Regions from separate parts of the Homo sapiens genome. Here region 2 is linked to region 1. Evidence: fine-mapped expression QTL. Tissue or cell type: skeletal muscle. Region 1 holds a variant in brackets; the other region holds the start of a gene. All regions are shown on one strand. Distances are between the middles of the regions.

Region 1 (8,470 bases):
GCTCATGCCTGTAATCCTAGCACTTTGGGAGGCCGAGGCAGGGGGATCACTTGAGGTCAGGAATTTGAGACCAGCCTGGCCAACATAGCGAAACCCCATCTCTACTAAAAAAAAAAATACAAAAATTAGCTGGGCGTGGTAGAGCGCCCGTAAGCCCAGCTACTCAGGAGGCTGAGGAATGAGAACTGCTTTAACCTGAAAGACAGAGGTTGCAGTGAGCTGAGATCACGCCACTGCACTGCAGCCTGGGGATAGAGCGAGACTCCGTCACACACACACACACACGCACACACACACACACACGTATGGCTCCTTTCTCCTCTGGAACTTTGAGGACTGAGGCTTAGGGTGATGGGCTTCAGTCGTGACAGGAGGGACTTGTCAGGACTTGGGAAGATATCTGTGTGTAGGTGTGTCCATGTACTTAGTGGGCATGTGCATGTGGTGTGGCATGGAATAACGACGTTAATTTTCCCGCAGGGTGATTAGTTCCCAGGCAATAACAACAGAAACCAAACAGCATTTCTTCACTATCTGCAGAATTGCGGGAATTTCCGCCATCTGCCTCATCCCAGGCCTCTTGAACAATTGAAAAGGAACCCAGGAAAAAGGGTGGAGAAGAGGGTTAATTTTAGCTGTCAACTTGGGTAGGTCATGGCACCCACATATTTGATCAAACACCAGCCTAAAAACAAACAAACAAACAAACACAATCCTTTGCAGCAACAAAGGTGTTTGATTAAGCACCCCTGTTGTTTGTTTGTGTTTGTTTGTTTTTGAGTCAGAGTCTCACTCTGTCACCCAGGCTGAAGTGCAATGGCACGATCTCAGCTCACTGCAACTTCCCCTAACTGGGTTCAAGCGATTCCCCTGCCTCAGCCTCCCTAGTAGCTGGGACTACAGGCGCCCGCCACCACACCCAGCTAATTTTTGTATTTTCAGTAGAGACGGGGTTTCACCATGTTGGCCAGGCTGGTCTCAAACTCCTGGCCTCAAGTGATCTGCCCTCGTTGGCCTCACAAAGTGCTATAATTACAGGCATGAGCCCCACACTCAGCCTCAAACATCTTTGTTGCTGCAAAGGTTTGTTTTTTTATTTTATTTCCTTTTTTGTTTTTTGAGACAGGGTCTCACTCTGTCACCCAAGCTGAGGTGTGGTGGTGCAGACATGGTTCACTGCAACCTCTGCCTCCTGGGCTTAAGTGATCCTCCCACCACGGCCTCCCAAGTAGCTGGGACTACAGGTGAGCATCACCGTGCCCGGCTAGTTTTTGTATTTTTTGTAGAGGGGGTTTCCTCATGTTTCCCAGGCTGTGCAAAGGTATTTTAAAGATGAAATGAACATTTAAGTCACTAGACTTTGAGTAAAGTAGATGGTCCTCTGTAATGTGGGTGGGCCTCACACAAGCAGTTGAAGGCTTTATGAGAAAACTGGCTGAGGTTCCCCTGAAGAAGGAGGAATTCTGCCAGCAGACTGTCTTGGGATTTGATCTGCAGCATCAGTGCTTTCCTGGGTCTCCAGCCTGCCAGCCTACCCTGCGGACTGTGGGCTCACCAACAGCACTGTGTGAGCCTCCAACAGGACTGTGTGAGCCAATTCCCTGGCACAAATCTCTGAATATAAATCTCTACACGTCCTGTCGGCTCTGTTCCCTCCAGCGCATCCTTGCACACATGCTTCTGGCTGCCCCGTGACGCCGGCTTTCCCCCTTCACTGGTCGCATGGCGGCTTTGCTTCCCTGTCCCCCACCCCGGGTGCATGGGCTCTGCTGTATCTTGTCTCTTCCCATGTAGGCCGGTCCTACCAAGTACAGGGGTCGTTTTCACACATGCTGTCATTGTCTCATATCTCTCCGTCCCCTGCTCAGACACACTCTGCCCCTTGAGCTGTCCTTGAGCTGATGACTACCAAGCATCGCCGACTTGCACTCAGCTCTCAGGGACGTCAGCATCACAGCTCCTTCTGGTTTCCTAACTCCTCTTTGAAAGACATTTCTAGGGGAAGCCATCGTTTCTAATTACCTTCAGAGGTTATCACCAAAACCTCCTTTCTGAAAAAAATTAGTACATTTATACAGTAAGTCCTCACTTGACATCATAGGTAGAGTCTTTGAAACTGTGACTTTAAGCAACGTGTACAGCAGGTCCTTGAATAACATTGGTTATAATATCGATGAGGGACAAACATCGGTTTCATTATACATTGTTTTGCTTAAAGTTACAGTTTCCAAGAACCTATCTATGACATTAAATGAGGACTTCGTGTATATTCAAATGGATTCTCTTTCTGAGTCTCTAGATATAGACTATAATGTGAATTCTAATCATCACGTTATTTCCTGAGCTCCTGTATGCTCAGTTATATGCCTTAGTTTTGATTTTGGGTATGCTAATCCTCATGTTAAGTTCCCCACCATTTGGAAACTGAAACATCGGATGCTCTATCAGCAGCCTAGGGATGCTCACATTTAATTAAATGCAGCTGGGAAGATACTTCTTTAATAATTGTTTAGTCTATTATCACTTATCAAGTAAGTATATAGCAGCTCTAATCTTCAGGAATAAATGACTTTCACCTCCCCTCTTTTCTGTAAAATGCACAAATTGCCATGAGCTCTTCTTGGTATTGGAGCTACTTTTCTTTTGAGGGTGACAATCCGTTCCTTTACTACAGTACTTGAAAACTTGTCCTGGAAAATGACCCAAGAGACCAGGGGAAAATGCAGTGAGCCTCCTGTTTGAGGGTGACACAGTCAGTGCTTGTCTTTACCTCCCTCCCTAGCTCCCAAGATCTAATGAAAAGGATACACAACATATGTTCTTAAGAGAATCAATCCATTCTCCATCACAGAGCTGGGAAAGAAGAAAGGCTGTCACCATTAAAGCAGAATTTGGTGGGGGTGGTGGTACAGATTTCTGGAATATTGAAAACAAATGGCCTCAATTTATGAAGAAACTAAGGCAGAGAGTTCCACCACTAAACACAGGCATTGTCAGAGGCGTGCCATTCTCCCAAACAGAGCCCCAGAGAAACTCCAAGCTCAGGGTCAACAGAAATGAACACAGACCTTAGTTAAAAGGCTGACTGCCGATTGTCATGTCTCGCTGCCACGTTGCATATAAAAATAGGAAAACATAAACATCAAGTAGAGATGTGTGTAAAGGATACTAATAGTCAGAGAAACACACATGGCCCTTATGCACATAAAAAGATGCTCAAATTCTCTAGTAGTCTAGTAGATTAGTGCAAAAAGAATGATGACAACATACCATATTTTACTCATTTGAAAGCTGATACTATCCTGTTTCAGTAAATGTATGGGTGAATGGTCTCTGCCTGTTGGTAGGAATCTAAAGGTATAGTTGTTTCTGTTTTTTTTTTTTTCCTTAGTTGCTCCAGAGCTAACTCCTCGGCAGTGCACCCAGAGTGAGTCTAAAAGTACAGTCTTCTGGGATGACAATTTGTCACCATCTAACAAAATGTCCCATGTCTTCGTACAGCAATTGTTCTTTGACTTAACAGAAATATTGACACATGCAGAAGAATACAAGTGCAGGAATATACCACATAACATGGTTTGCAATGGCTAATAATTAGAAACAATTTATAGAGAAATGGATAAATTACAGTTTATTTATAGTAAGGAAAACTATGTTTAAAAGATCTGACAGGGAAAGACCCTTAAGATATATTGTTTAAAAAAATAAGCAATGTGCACCCGGGATAATCCTAATGAACCCAAAGTAATCACAAGTGTACTTACAAGAAGGAGGCAGTGGAGTTAGGGTCAGAGAGAAGATGTAAGGATGGGCACAGAGGTCAGAGAGAGGCGAAGATGCTTTGAAGATTGAGGAAGGGGCCTTGAGTAAAGAAATGCAAAAGCCAGGAAAGGCAAGGAGACAAAATCTTCCCTGGAGCCTATACCTCTTTTGTTGTTGTTGATTTTCAAACAATTACGAACATACTGAAATTTTCAAGAATAGTAGGACTTTTTTTCCCTGAACCATGTGAGAGTAATGCTGACACAAAGCCCCATCATTCTGAATTCTTTAGTTTGTAATTCCTACAAACAAGGAGATTCTCCTACACAAGCAAACATACCACCAGCAAAATCAGGAAATTAACAATGAAATCTTCCTACCACCTACTCTACAGATTCCACCCCAGTTTCTCCAATTGCACCAGTCGTATCCTTTATAGTCAAAGGATCCAGGACAGGGTCTCCCGCTGCTTTCACTGGTCATGTCTCTACTCACTTTCAATCTAGAGGCTGTCTTCTCGCTGCCTTCTATCAGGTGGCAAATGATTCTGATTTGTCCGTTTCTGCTGAGATCAACTTGATTAAGGTGGTATTTGTCAGATTTCTCCACTGTGCATGACTAATGTTTTGGAATCAGTAAGGAAACGTGGGACTATTTAAATATCCCATTTCTTTCTTTGTTTCTTCTTTCTTTTCTTTCCTTTCCCTCCCTCCCCCTCTCTCTCTCTTTCTCTCTCTCTCTCTCTCTTTCTCTCTCTCTCTCTTTCTTTCTGATAGTCTTACTCACTTGCCCAGGCTGGAGTACAGTGGCGTGATCTCAGTTCACTGCAACCTCCACCTTCCAGGTTCAAGCAATCTTCCTTCCTCAGCCTCCCGAGTAGCTGGGATTACAGGTGCCCGCCACCACGCCCGGCTAATTTTTGTATTTTTAGTAGAGACTGGGTTTCGTCATGTTGGCCAGGCTGGTCTGGAACTCCTGACCTCAGGTGAACCGCCCACCTCGGCCTCCCAAAGTGCTAGGATGACAGGCGTGAACCACCGTGCCCAGCCTCAATATTCCATTTCTTATCAAACATTGACTCACTGATTTTAGCTTCCATTGATATTTTTGGATGATTTAATTATTGCCTTATTAATGACCAAACAGTGATTTTTCTAACTGCATCATTTTTTTCTCCATTTACTTGTTGCCACTTGCATTAGTGTCCTATTGTGTGTCATACTGTATTAGTGCTGCTATAACAAACTACCATAACCTTAGCGGGTTAAAACAACTTAAATGTATTATTTT[G/A]TAACTCTGGAGGCCAGACGTTCCCCATCGGTGTCACTAGGTTAAAATCAAGGCACTGGCAGGCCTGTGTTCCTCTTAAAGGCACCAGGGAAGAAGCCGTTCCCTTGCCTTCTAGCTTCTGGAGGACGCCTGCATTCCTGGGCTATGGCCCCCTCCTCTATCTTCAAGCCATCAGCATAGCACCTTCCCTCCTCTCTGACCTCTGCTTTCATCCGTTTATCCTCTCTCTGATTCTGCTCCTCATGGCTGCTTTGTGTAAGCGCCCTTGTGACCACATTGGGGACCTCCCCCCCATAATCCAGGATTATACACACTCATCTGCATTTAAATCTACATATTATACATAATATAGACACATATTTGTATAATATATTATATCTTTATTTATCTATATAATTTTTTTGAGACATGGTGTCATTCTGTCACCCAGGCTGGAATGCAGTGGCACGATCTTGGCTTACTGCAGCCTCAACCTCCTGGGCTCAAGCGATCCTCCCACCTTAGCCTCCCAAGTAGCTGGAACTACAGGTGTGCACCACCACACCTGGCTAATTCTTAATTTTTTTGTAAAGAAGGGACCTCACTGTGTTGCCCAGGCTGGTCTCAAACTCCTGGCCTTAAGTGATCCTCCGACCTTGGCCTCCCAAAATGTTGGGATTAAAGGCAGGTGTGAGCCACTGCACCCGACCCTTATCTATATATTCAAAACCATGAGTTTGCACCAATGCCTTTAATTCCAATCCAACACCATAAGGTTCAGATTAGTTGTCTTATCATTCACCCTGCAGCTCATTTCCAACAATGAAAAGCCTGACTCCCACCACTTTCAATATGTTTCACTATTGGACTAATCCCTCTTGTGTGTGTTCAGTCTCCCCTCCTGGCCAGACCCCTCCACTCTCCTCACACTACGCGGCCTGCCAGGTGAAAACAATACAGGGACTGCCACTAAGCCCTACTTTTTTTCTTTTATTTTTCTTTCTTTTTTTCCCCTCCCTCCTTCCTCTTTCTTTTCCCTCCCTTCCTCCCTCCCTCCTTTCCTTCCTTTCTTTTCTTTCTCTTTCTTTTTGTTCCTTCCTTCTTCTCTTTTTCTTTCTTTTCCTTCCTTCCTTCCTCTCTCTCTTTCTGTCTCCTTCCTTCCTTCCCTTCCTTCCCTCCCCTTCCCTCCCCTTCCTTCCTTCCTTTCTTCTTTCTTTCTTTCCTTCCTCTTTCTTTTTTTTCAAGGTCAGTCTGGCTCTGTCACCCAGGCTGGAGTACAGAGTGGCCTGATCTTGGCTCAAAGCAGCCTTGACCACCCTAGGCTCAAGCTATCCTCCTGCCTCAGCCTCCTGAGCAGCTGGGACCACAGGGCTGCACTACCACACCGGGATAATTTTTGTGTCTTTTGTAGAGACGGGGTTTCACCATGTTGCCTAGGTTGGTCTCGAACTCCTGAGCTCAAATGATCCACTCACCTTGGCCTCCCAAAGTGCTGGGATTACAGGCATGAGCCACTGGGCCCAGCCTGTTTTTTTCTTAAATACTACTACTTAGAACTAAATGTGAAATCATCCAAATATCATATTATCCTAAATTTGATTAAGATAATTACTGTTGGCTGGAAAAGGTAGTATTACATATGGCTTAATTCCTTTACTGTATAGTCCACAGAGATTGAGACTTTAATCTTCACATTGAGTGGAAAATAAGAGAGAATATGTTCAGATGACAGTAAAATAAAGTCAAATTAGACTTTCAGACAAAATTACATTAAATATATTTTGACATTGAAACAAGTGACCAAGTGCAGTTGAGGAATTTCTTTGACTCATGACATTTACAGTAAGAGTAAATATAGAGGCCGGGCACAGTGGCTCACGCCTGTAATCCCAGCACTTTGGGAGGCAGAGGTGGTTAGATCACAAGATCAGGAGATCCAGACCATCCTGACTAACACGGTGAAACCCCGTCTCTACTAAAAAATACAAAAAATTAGCCCGGCGTGGTGGCGGGCGCCTGTAGTCCCACCTACTCGGGAGGCTGAGGCAGGAGAATCACTTGAACCCGGGAGGCGGAGGTTCCGGTGAGCCGAGATCGCACCACTGCACACCAGCCTGGTGACACAGCGAGGCTCCATCTCAAAAAAAAAAAAAGAAAAAAAAGAAAAAGAAAAACTCAGCTGTTAAACATTTCTTGCTCAAATAACTTCTGTAAAATGCTTAATAGAATAAATAATCGTATCAGTCAGGGTTCTCTGGAGAAACAGAACCAATAAGAGATATATATGTATGTGTGTATGTATACATACACATACAAAGAGACAGCGAGAGAGATTTTAAAGAATTGCTCAAGTAATTGAGGAGGCCGGCAAGTCTGAAATCTCTAGGACAGGCCCACAGGTTGGAAATTCAGGCAGGAGTTGATGTTACCGTCTCGAGTCCGAAATCTGCAAAGCAGGCCAAGCCCTCCGGAAACTCACTCAGAGTTTCTGTGCTGCAGGCTCGAGGCAGAATTCCTTTTTTCTCGGGAAAGGCTCAGTCTCCGCTCTGAAAGCCTTCAGCTGATTGCATGAAGCTCACCCACATTCAAGAGGATAATCTACTTTACTCAGAGTCAGCTGATTGTACGTATCAATCACATCTACACAATACCTTCACAGCAACATCCAAGTTAGTGTTTAACCAAGCAGCTGGGCCCCACAGCCAAGCCAAGTTGAGACATAATGAACCATCACTGTCTCTGTAACTATCTGTTTTCAAAGAAACATTGATTTTCTTTCGCAATCACTTCCAGAAGTTTGACTTAGTATTTCCTACACACTGTTTAACTAACATTGAATTAACTCTTAGTTCCTAATAAAGGTTTGCTAACACATACATACAAATCTTATTAGAAAATTGATTTGCATGTGTTAGAAAACATATTTATTGCATTATTTTGGAACAGTTTTAGTTTTTGCATTATCTCTTCTGTGGTCATATATTGGATTTTCTTTGATGCTTTTCACTGATGACAGCTATTTGGGGGAAAACATAGATGATTTTTACAAAACGCGTCACTGAAAGGGTTTGGGCAGACAACAGTGCGTCTTTTGGTGCAGGCTGGCACTCACACGCAGAGATGCCGCAAGATCAGTCTCCACCCCTCAGACCTCTGCGGAGGGACGCTTGGGTCCGGCTAGTTGGACTAAGACAGCCCCGGACTGCAAGGAAAGGCCTCAAGGCCCCGCCCCCACTCATTTGGGTTCTCTTTTTAAAGGGCAAACCCGAGTGGCCTTGCCAGGGGGAACAAAATGTCTGCTTGGGCATCGGGCAGGCTGGGCTTAGGTGACAGCTGTTCAGGCAGTTCGCTGTCTGGAGAGCCTGTTGCCAGCACCTGTTGACCTTGTGAGAAGTTCCATTTGGGCACAGCCCCTCCTGCAGGGGGAGGGGGGAGGTTC
Region 2 (8,470 bases), 43 kb after region 1:
AGAGTATAGGGAAATTCTCGACCTCCCATTTGCTAAGGAGAGAGTAGCAACTGGATTCAAACCGAAGGGCCTAGGACTTAGCTCCACTGTTAACTTTGGACATTTGAGGTCCATGGTTATTACATACTTGGAGATGGTGTAAGGACTGTTAAGCTTGAAAGGGAATTGAGAACAGAAACTTATTTTCTGTGATGGTCATCCATCGATCATGCATAAGAATCATTTCTAATAGTTTAAACTGTGACAATGTTAATAATAACTGTAAATCTTTTACAAAAAAAACTTCCCCATTCCGCTACTTATAATTATTTGTGTGTTTTTTTTGTTTTTTTTTTTGAGTCCCGCTCTGTCGCCCAGACTGGAGTGCAGTGGCACAATCTCTGCTCACTGGAACCTCCGCCTCCTGGGTTCAAGTGATTCTCCTGCCTCAGCCTCCCAAGTAGCTGGGACTACAGGCATGCACCATCATGCGTGGCTAATTTTTGTATTTTTAGTAGAGACAGGGTTTCACCTTGTTGGCCAGGCTGGTCTAGAACTCCAGACTTGAGGTGATCCGCCTGCCTCGGCCTCTCAAAGTTCTGGGATTAAAGGTGTGAGCCACTGTGCCCCGCCTACTTATAATCATTTGAATAAAAGGTTTATATGACTTATTTACAAAATAAAATACTGTTACTATTTTTTTTTTGAGACAGAGTCTCGCTCTGTCGCAGTGGCTTGATCTCGGCTCACTGCAAGCTCTGCCTCCCGGGTTCACGCCATTCTCCTGCCTCAGCCTCCCGAGTAGCTGGGACTACAGGCGCCCGCCACCATGCCCGGCTAATTTTTTGTATTTTTAGTAGAGACAGTGGGGTTTCACCATGTTGGCCAGGATGGTCTCGATCTCCTGACCTCGTGATCCGCCCACCTTGGCCTCCCAAAGTGCTGGGATTACAGGTGAGAGCCACCGCGCCCAGCCCTACTGTTACTATTTTATGTTAAAGATAAGATTAAATAATTTTTAAGGTTTTTTCCATTTCTAGTATCTTATGATTCTGGTACAATAAAAACAAGTTTATCTTGGTTTTTTAAGCTTCTGAATTAAGTTTTCAAACGTTAAAAATGACTGATGTTAGGGTGATGTTTCCATTTAAATGCTACAGAAAATACAGACATAATAAATTTAAACAAGTTTAAAAAACAAAATAAGCATTTTTAGCCACTTTCAGTCTTTTCTAGAAAAGTTCTAAGTGCTCTTATTCATGCCATGTCTTACCCTATATTGAAAAGAAACTGGACTTAATTCCCGGAAACTTTCATCTCCTTCATAAATAGAGCGTAATGCTTCTAGTTCCATCTGAAATAAAGAACTGAATGAGTTTTGTTTAGTGGTATAAATGAATTAGAAATAGAGGGTCTTTACTTTCTCATTCAAGCCCACTCAACTATGTAAAAGCTTGACTAACTTATATAACCTTAGATACTTACCACATAGGTGCATGCAGCAACACATGACAATATTACTACCAATGATACTTACTTTCAAACTCTGTGTCAGGGACTACTAAGCACTGTACAATGTATGATCGCGCTGACTTCTCAAATCAACCCTGTCAAGAGGCTCCTATTATTTTCTCCTTCCTAGGGAAGCAAGGAAGTCTCCCTGTAAAGCCACTCCAGAGCAAGCGCTCTTAGAACTTGGCTAAAGACGAACCTGGGTGCAAAGAGCATTAAACCTAAAGATAAGAACTATGAAAAACAATACTTTCCCATTATTTACATACATTTCTTTTATATGTAATCCTTCCCACAGTGATACAAAGCTCTAAAAAACACCTAAGGGCAAGAAAAAGAACTTAAGAAAAAGGCTGACAAGTATCTACCCAAGATGAGACAGGACTGTCAGAGAAAATGTAACTAGTAATCCTTGCTTGGACATAGTTCTTAGAACATTTTGGTATTACAACTGAGAAGTTCATCACTGTGATCACCGATGAATACCTGAGAAAAGAAGTAAAGCAAGACTGCACTTGGGTACACGTTTAAGTTTTTCAAAAAGATGCATGTCATGAATTCTACAAACTAAAGATGGTGAAAGTGGGCTTGATCTACAGTCAAAATTTTAGAATAGAAATTATTGGCTGGGCGCGGTGGCTCACATCTGTAATCCCAGCACTTTGGGAGGCCGAGGCGGGCGGATCACCTGAGGTCAGGAGTTCGAGGTCAGCCTGGCCAACACGGTGAAACCCCATCTCTACTAAAGACACAAAAATTAGCCAGGTGTGGTGATGGGCGCCTGTAGTCCCAGCTACTCAGGAGGCTGAGGCAAGAGAATCGCTTGAACCCAGGAGGCGGAGGTTGCAGTGAGCCGAGATCGGGCCACTGCAATCCAGCCTGGGCTACAGAGCGAGGCTCCGTCTCAAAAATAGCAACAACAACAGCAAAAAGACATTGTTGAAGAAACAGTGTGTGAGGAACTGGGACATTAAGGAGTAGACCCTAAGACCTAGTAAGTATATGAAAAACAAGATATACCCTTCTTAGATAGGGAAACTTGATTGGCACAATGAAGAAAGGCATAAAACACCGACTATATAGATTTCAGCCAGGCTCCACAGGTTTCTCTTGCTACCTTTACAGAAAAAACAAAAAAAAACAAAATACAGAAATTCAAGCCGGATTCAAGAATAACTAAGATTAGATTGGAACAAAAACCTTACTCAAGATATAGTACTACTCCTTCTGTCCCTAATCCTTTCCCATATTTTAATTTATGACTTGGACAGGTACAAAAATAGGAGGCAAGTTTATTAAATTTGTGGATGACAATTTGTTGGGACAGTGAATAATGCTGATGGCTGAATAAGAATCCAAAAAGTCTTTGAAAAGCAAGCTAATGATGAAATTTAGCAGGGTAAGTAGAACTTGTATCAATACTCAGATACCTAAATGTAGAAGTTGAAGATGAAAGACAAATTGCTTTGTATAAAGCACTTAAAAGATTTCAGTTGACAGTAAATTTAACTAGACAAAACAGCAAGATGCCACAATTTTGAAACAGGACATTTAAAAAATTAAAATCTGTCCACAAACACGTGATTCCAGGATAGTGAAGAGATTAACAAAGAATGGATATATGAAGACAAGCTAAAAGGAACCACTTCCTCAGAGAAGGTCTGAGAAACTGGGCAGGAAACTATCTTCAAAGATCAGAACATCGGTCATCTGAAAGAAGAATGAAATTTTCTTGTTAAACTGGAGATTCCTGGGCCCACCACAGAAATTCTGATTCAGTAGGTCTGGGGTGGAGTGCACGCATCTGTTTTCTAGCAACCATCTAAATGGTTCTAAGGTAGGGGACTATGGTCCAACTCTGAGAAACATTACACTGTATGTTCTTTGCTTTGCAGGGAGAAGAAGCTATTAACGCATTCACTTAGAAATTCACCCGGCAAGAATATTTTAGAAGAGATTCAGATATCAACTAGCTAGCTTGTTGGACTTTGGGTCCTTTAAAGGTTAACTTCCAATCCAGAGATTCTATTACATTTATCATGTAAAAGTAGTAAGTTTCAAGCATTATACTTTAAATTAACAGTGAACTTATCTACCACCCAATAAGACCTGGTTTCTAGTCCCGATTCTACCACGTACTTACTGTGCAGCCCTGCGGCTATCATCGACCCACCTATCAAAGTTAGAAGGTTCCCCTACAGATGGCCCGTAGCACCCACCCCCCAACTCTAATATTATATGATTCAATGTCAAAATGGCATCTCACAAGGAAATATTTGAGCATAAACCATAAATTCAGGTGGTACATGAATGCTCAAAACAGACAGATGGGTAAAAGATTTCCCCAAACAATATGGACAGAAACTCAGATGCACCACCAGTGTCATTTTCTTCCATGAGAAATGTAACTAACTCAATTAGCCCTCTACTAGCCAAGAGATTTAAAGATGACCAGACTAAAATTTAAAGGTGATCAGCCTAACTCAGTAAACAGGCACTGAACACATGGGATTCAAGGAGAGCCAAGAGCACTGGATCGTGCACCAAGGACGCTCATCCCTGTTATTAAGTAACCAGGGGAGACTCCCGGATTTGCAAAAATGAAAAATGAGGGGGGAAGAGTGGCAGAGGCGGACTCCTGGCCATTCACGCGCGCTTGGGTGGGACGCCGGTGAACTCGGGGCACCCCGGCCGGCTCCGAGGGCACAGGGCACGTGCCGGGCAGGCTGTCCGGGCACCAGGTCTCACGGGGGCCCGGGGCTGCGCGCCGCGCCCGCGCTGGGAGAGGGCCCTGAGCCGGGGGGCTCACCTCCTGGTCCTCGTTGGCACTCATCGCGCCGGTCGCGGGGCGCCTCCTGAGCGGACGGCGTTCGCAACAACGAAGAGAAAGCGAAGGCAGCGGCCCAGAGGCCGGGCGTCCCCCTTTCGCGCCTCGGCTGTGGGGGCGGCACAGTCTTGGCACTGGCAGACGCCAACTGCGCGCGCCCCGAGCCTCGGCAGCGCCCAGCCGCCGGCAGTGGGCTGTGGGCTACGAGCCGGAGCCGCGGCTGGTGGGGCCTGGGAAGTGCAGCGTCTCCCTGACGCTTGGAGGAGCGGCGTAAAGTTCCGGGACAGCGATTGGTGTAGAGCGCGGTCACTCAGGCCCAGAAAGTGCTTCCTGTGCCGGGGGAGGTGGGTACAGGGAAGTCTCGCCTGTTGGAACTGGCTGTGGGGCTGCGGCGGTGGGGACGGGCCACGGCGTTCTGTGACATCCCCCCGCCTCCCCTCGTCTTCTCCCGGCTGGCGGCGACCGGCCTCAGCTGCAGCGGGCCCGGGGCGTGGGGCCTGGGTGAGTCCGGGCCCGGAGACCCGCGGGGCCAGGCGGGACCGCCGAGGAAGAGAGCTAGCTCTTAACAATGCTGGTTTGGGGGCCTGCGTTTTGCAATCCCATCGACGGGTGCAATCCTGGCACTTCTCTTTTAGACCCGAGGAAAGACGCACCCGTTTCTAGGGCCTCCCAGGTTTAAGACGGGGGAATAAGAGGAGGAAGATATCTGCCTTTAGGGACTGCAAGGTTATTTCTCTACCTTTCCTCACTGGAGCTACCAGAACAGATACTGGGACCATGGGGACGGTGTTTCTCCTACGTTGGATTGTTGCTTCTCATCTTTAACATCGAAACATCATTTCGTCCCCACACTGTCGTTCCTCTTTTGTTCGTTTTGTAGTTGAACATCTCTGAATCCCATTCTTAGCAGCCTTGTGTCCTAACACCCTGAACTTCCAGTTAGTTAAAAGAAAAAAAAAGTAACCACATTAGGTTTTGGGGTTTTTTTAGTTGCCAATTTGATTGGGTCACCTTTCTTATCTTTCACGCTAGTTTCCAGTTTACTTCCCTTGCATTACTTGATCTCCCATCCATTATTCACCTTCTATAGCTGCGCCTCCTTTCGTGTATAGTTTCGTTGGTTGCTCCATTGGATATCTGAAAATTTCTCCTTCCAGCCTGTCATTGAAATCCATTCGATCTGCGCCTGTGCGTTATCGGGGTTCTCATTCAAATTCCTTTGCTGCAGAATAAGCACGACCATTTCAGGTGACATAGGAGAATGTGGCAAGACTTTCTGATACAATTTTCGTGCAGCAATTTTGGGACACATTTCCCATAATTTAGATCTCTGCTGTCCAGTTCTGTAGCCAGTAGCTACATCAGGCATTTGAAATAGGCTAGTCTGAATTGAGATGTGCTGTGAGTGTGAAATACACACCAGATTTTGAAGACTCAGTACAAAAAAAGGTAAAATATGTCATTAATAACTTTTATATTATTGTCAGTATGATAATATTTTGGACATACTGTACTGCGTTAAATTGAATATTAAAATGAATTCCATCCACGTTTTACTTTTTAATATGACTGCTAGAAATTTTTAATTTATTTATGTGACTTGTATTTCTATTGGATGACAGTCATTTTTAGTTCCTCTTATTTCAACTCCATATTTAAAGACCACAGCTATGTCTTTTGGGCCTCTGGAGTTATTACAGGAAATGGCCTCTAGTCTAGACTCGTTCATATTAAGCAAAGGGGCCCGTATTGTATTTTGGTCACTTGTTTTTTGTTGTTGTTGTTGAGACGGAGTCTTGCTCTGTTGCCCAGGCTGGAGTGCAGTGGTGCGATCTCGGCTCACTGAAATCTCCGCCTCCCGGGTTCAAGCCATTCTCCTGCCTCAGCCTCCCGAGTAGCTGGGACTATAGGCACGCATCACCATGCCCGGCTAATTTTTGTATTTTTAGTAGAGACGGGGTTTCACCCTATTGGCCAGGCTGGTTTTGAACCGTTGACCTCGTGAATCGCCCGCCTTGGCCTCCCAAAGTGCTGGGATTACAGGCGTGAGCCGCTGTACCCAGCCTGGTCACCCCTTTTTAATTTTCATTCCTACATTACCCAGAACTAGACTGTTTCTTTCTCTGAACATGCAATCCTTTGCCCTCATAACTTAATCCTGTCCTAAAAATATTTAAACAATTCTAAAACAATCTGTTGTAGACATTTCTGGCAAGCTTTGCAAATCATTTATTGAATACCTGTTGTTCTTTCAGTATGTAAACATGAGAAGACTAATAGTCTTTCCTAAATTAACCTTTCAGTTGAAAATATTCCATGTTTTGGGGATTAGGTATTAGCCTAAGTGTGCCTCACTTTTCACAAAGATTGTGTTAGACTTCTCCATAATATACTGGTATACTGGTGTAGATTACCTTTTTTTTTTTTTTTTTTTTTTTTTGAGACGGAGTCTCCTCGCTCTGTCGCCCAGGCTGGAGTGCAGTGGCGCGATCTCCGCTCACTGCAAGCTCCGCCTCCCGGGTTCACGCCATTCTCCTGCCTCAGCCTCCCGAGTAGCTGGGACTACAGGCGCCCACCACCATACTCGGCTAATTTTTTGTGTTTTTAGTAGAGACGGGGTTTCACCATGTTAGCCAGGATGGTCTCGATCTCCTGACCTTGTGATCCGCCCGCCTCGGCCTCCCAAAGTGCTGGGATTACAGGCGTGAGCCACCGCGCCCGGCCAGATTACCTTTTAAAAGAGCCTCATGACACATTCTTTTTCAAATAAGATTATATTTAAAATGTAGTGATAATTTTGTTTGGAATAACTTTTTTTTTTTTTTTTTTTTTTGTGGCACAATCTTGCTCTGTCACCCAGGCTGGAGTGCAGTGGCACAATCATAGTTCACTGTAACTTTAAACACCTAGACTCAAGTGATCCTCCCATCTCAGCCTCCCAAGTGGCTGGGACTACAAGTGAGCACCACCATGCCCGGCTATTTTCTTTTTTATTTCTTTTAGAGACAGGATCTCACTATGTTTCCCAGGCCAGTCTTGAACTCCTGGCCTCAACAATCCTCTGGCCTTGTCCTCCAAAAGTGCTGGGATTATAGGCATGAGCCACTTGTGCCTTACCTGAATTCTCTGTAATATGCTGGTATAGATTATCTTTTAAAAGAACCTCATTTGGGAGGCCAAGGCTGGCAATCGCCTGAGGTCACGAGATCAAGACCATCCTGGCCAACATGGTGAAACCCTGTCCACTAAAATACAAAAAATTAGCTGGGTGTGGTGGTGCATGCCTGTAGTCCCAGCTACTAGGGAGGCTGAGGCAGGGGAATCACTTGAACCCGGGAGGTGGAGGTTGTAGTGAGCTGATATTGGGCCAGTGCACTCCAGCCTGGTGACAGAGTGATACTCCGTCTCAAAAAAAAAAAAAAAAAAGAACCTCATGTTGTTACATCCTTTTGCAAGTAAGATTATATTAAAAATATAATGACAGTCTTGTTCGGGATAAACATAGTTTTATATACTTATAAAGTCAGGGCATACGTTAGATTTATTATGGACTGATTCTTAGCTAAAGGACGCAGTGGAAACATCCTCCGAGAGGTTTCCATTCATTGTTAGTTTTTCCCTTACAGATTTTTCTTTAAAGAGTAAATTTTATATTGTGGGAAATGAGACAACATAGCTACTATTTAGATAATTACATAAATTAAAGGCTATTTTAATAATATCCTAGGTATTCAGAAATTCAATATTAGCAATTACAGAGAAATTAGGGGAAGTTTATTATATGTAAGTCAACTGTTTTTCTTTTATATTTTTCTTTCAATATATTTTTCTTTTATAGTTGAAATAGATCATGTAGATCTATTTTAATTTTATCACCTTCTTGCTTTCTTGGTCTACTAATTTCAAAGTTCTGTGTGCATTTTGAGACATTACTGAAAATGCCGATTTGTCTTAAAGTTGACTTCATTTTTAACATGAAAGATTTTTTCTTAAATGTCATATAGTTATTACATTTTAATAGATCTAATTCAGGAATTAAAGTTTTCCCTTTTTCTCTCTTCTGTTTGTTTGACAGTTTGCAGATACTCAAAGCCTTTTGCCTTTTTGTAATGATTATTTTATTTATTTTATTTTTTTTGAGACAGAGTCTCA

Evidence for each region. PIP is the estimated chance that this variant, and not a neighbour inherited with it, causes the effect.
Region 2: RWDD4 starts here. The variant in region 1 is fine-mapped to the expression of RWDD4 in skeletal muscle (GTEx, PIP 0.98).

What each region holds. Positions count from the first base shown.
Region 1 is chr4:183,611,138-183,619,607 of GRCh38, forward strand. No RefSeq gene overlaps it. Among named protein-coding and RNA genes, the nearest start is that of RWDD4, 44 kb to the right of the region's middle. The variant G/A (reference allele first, on the strand shown) is at 5,053.
Region 2 is chr4:183,654,629-183,663,098 of GRCh38, forward strand. It overlaps RWDD4 (RWD domain containing 4), which reads right to left and starts at 4,557. Exons shown (of 8, transcript NM_152682.4): 1 at 4,301-4,557; 2 at 1,253-1,333. The coding sequence starts at 4,324. It overlaps TRAPPC11 (trafficking protein particle complex subunit 11), which reads left to right and starts at 4,665. Exons shown (of 30, transcript NM_021942.6): 1 at 4,665-4,819. RefSeq lists enhancers at 3,764-4,552, 4,467-4,596, 4,553-5,340 and silencers at 4,072-4,292, 4,107-4,316, 4,687-4,976.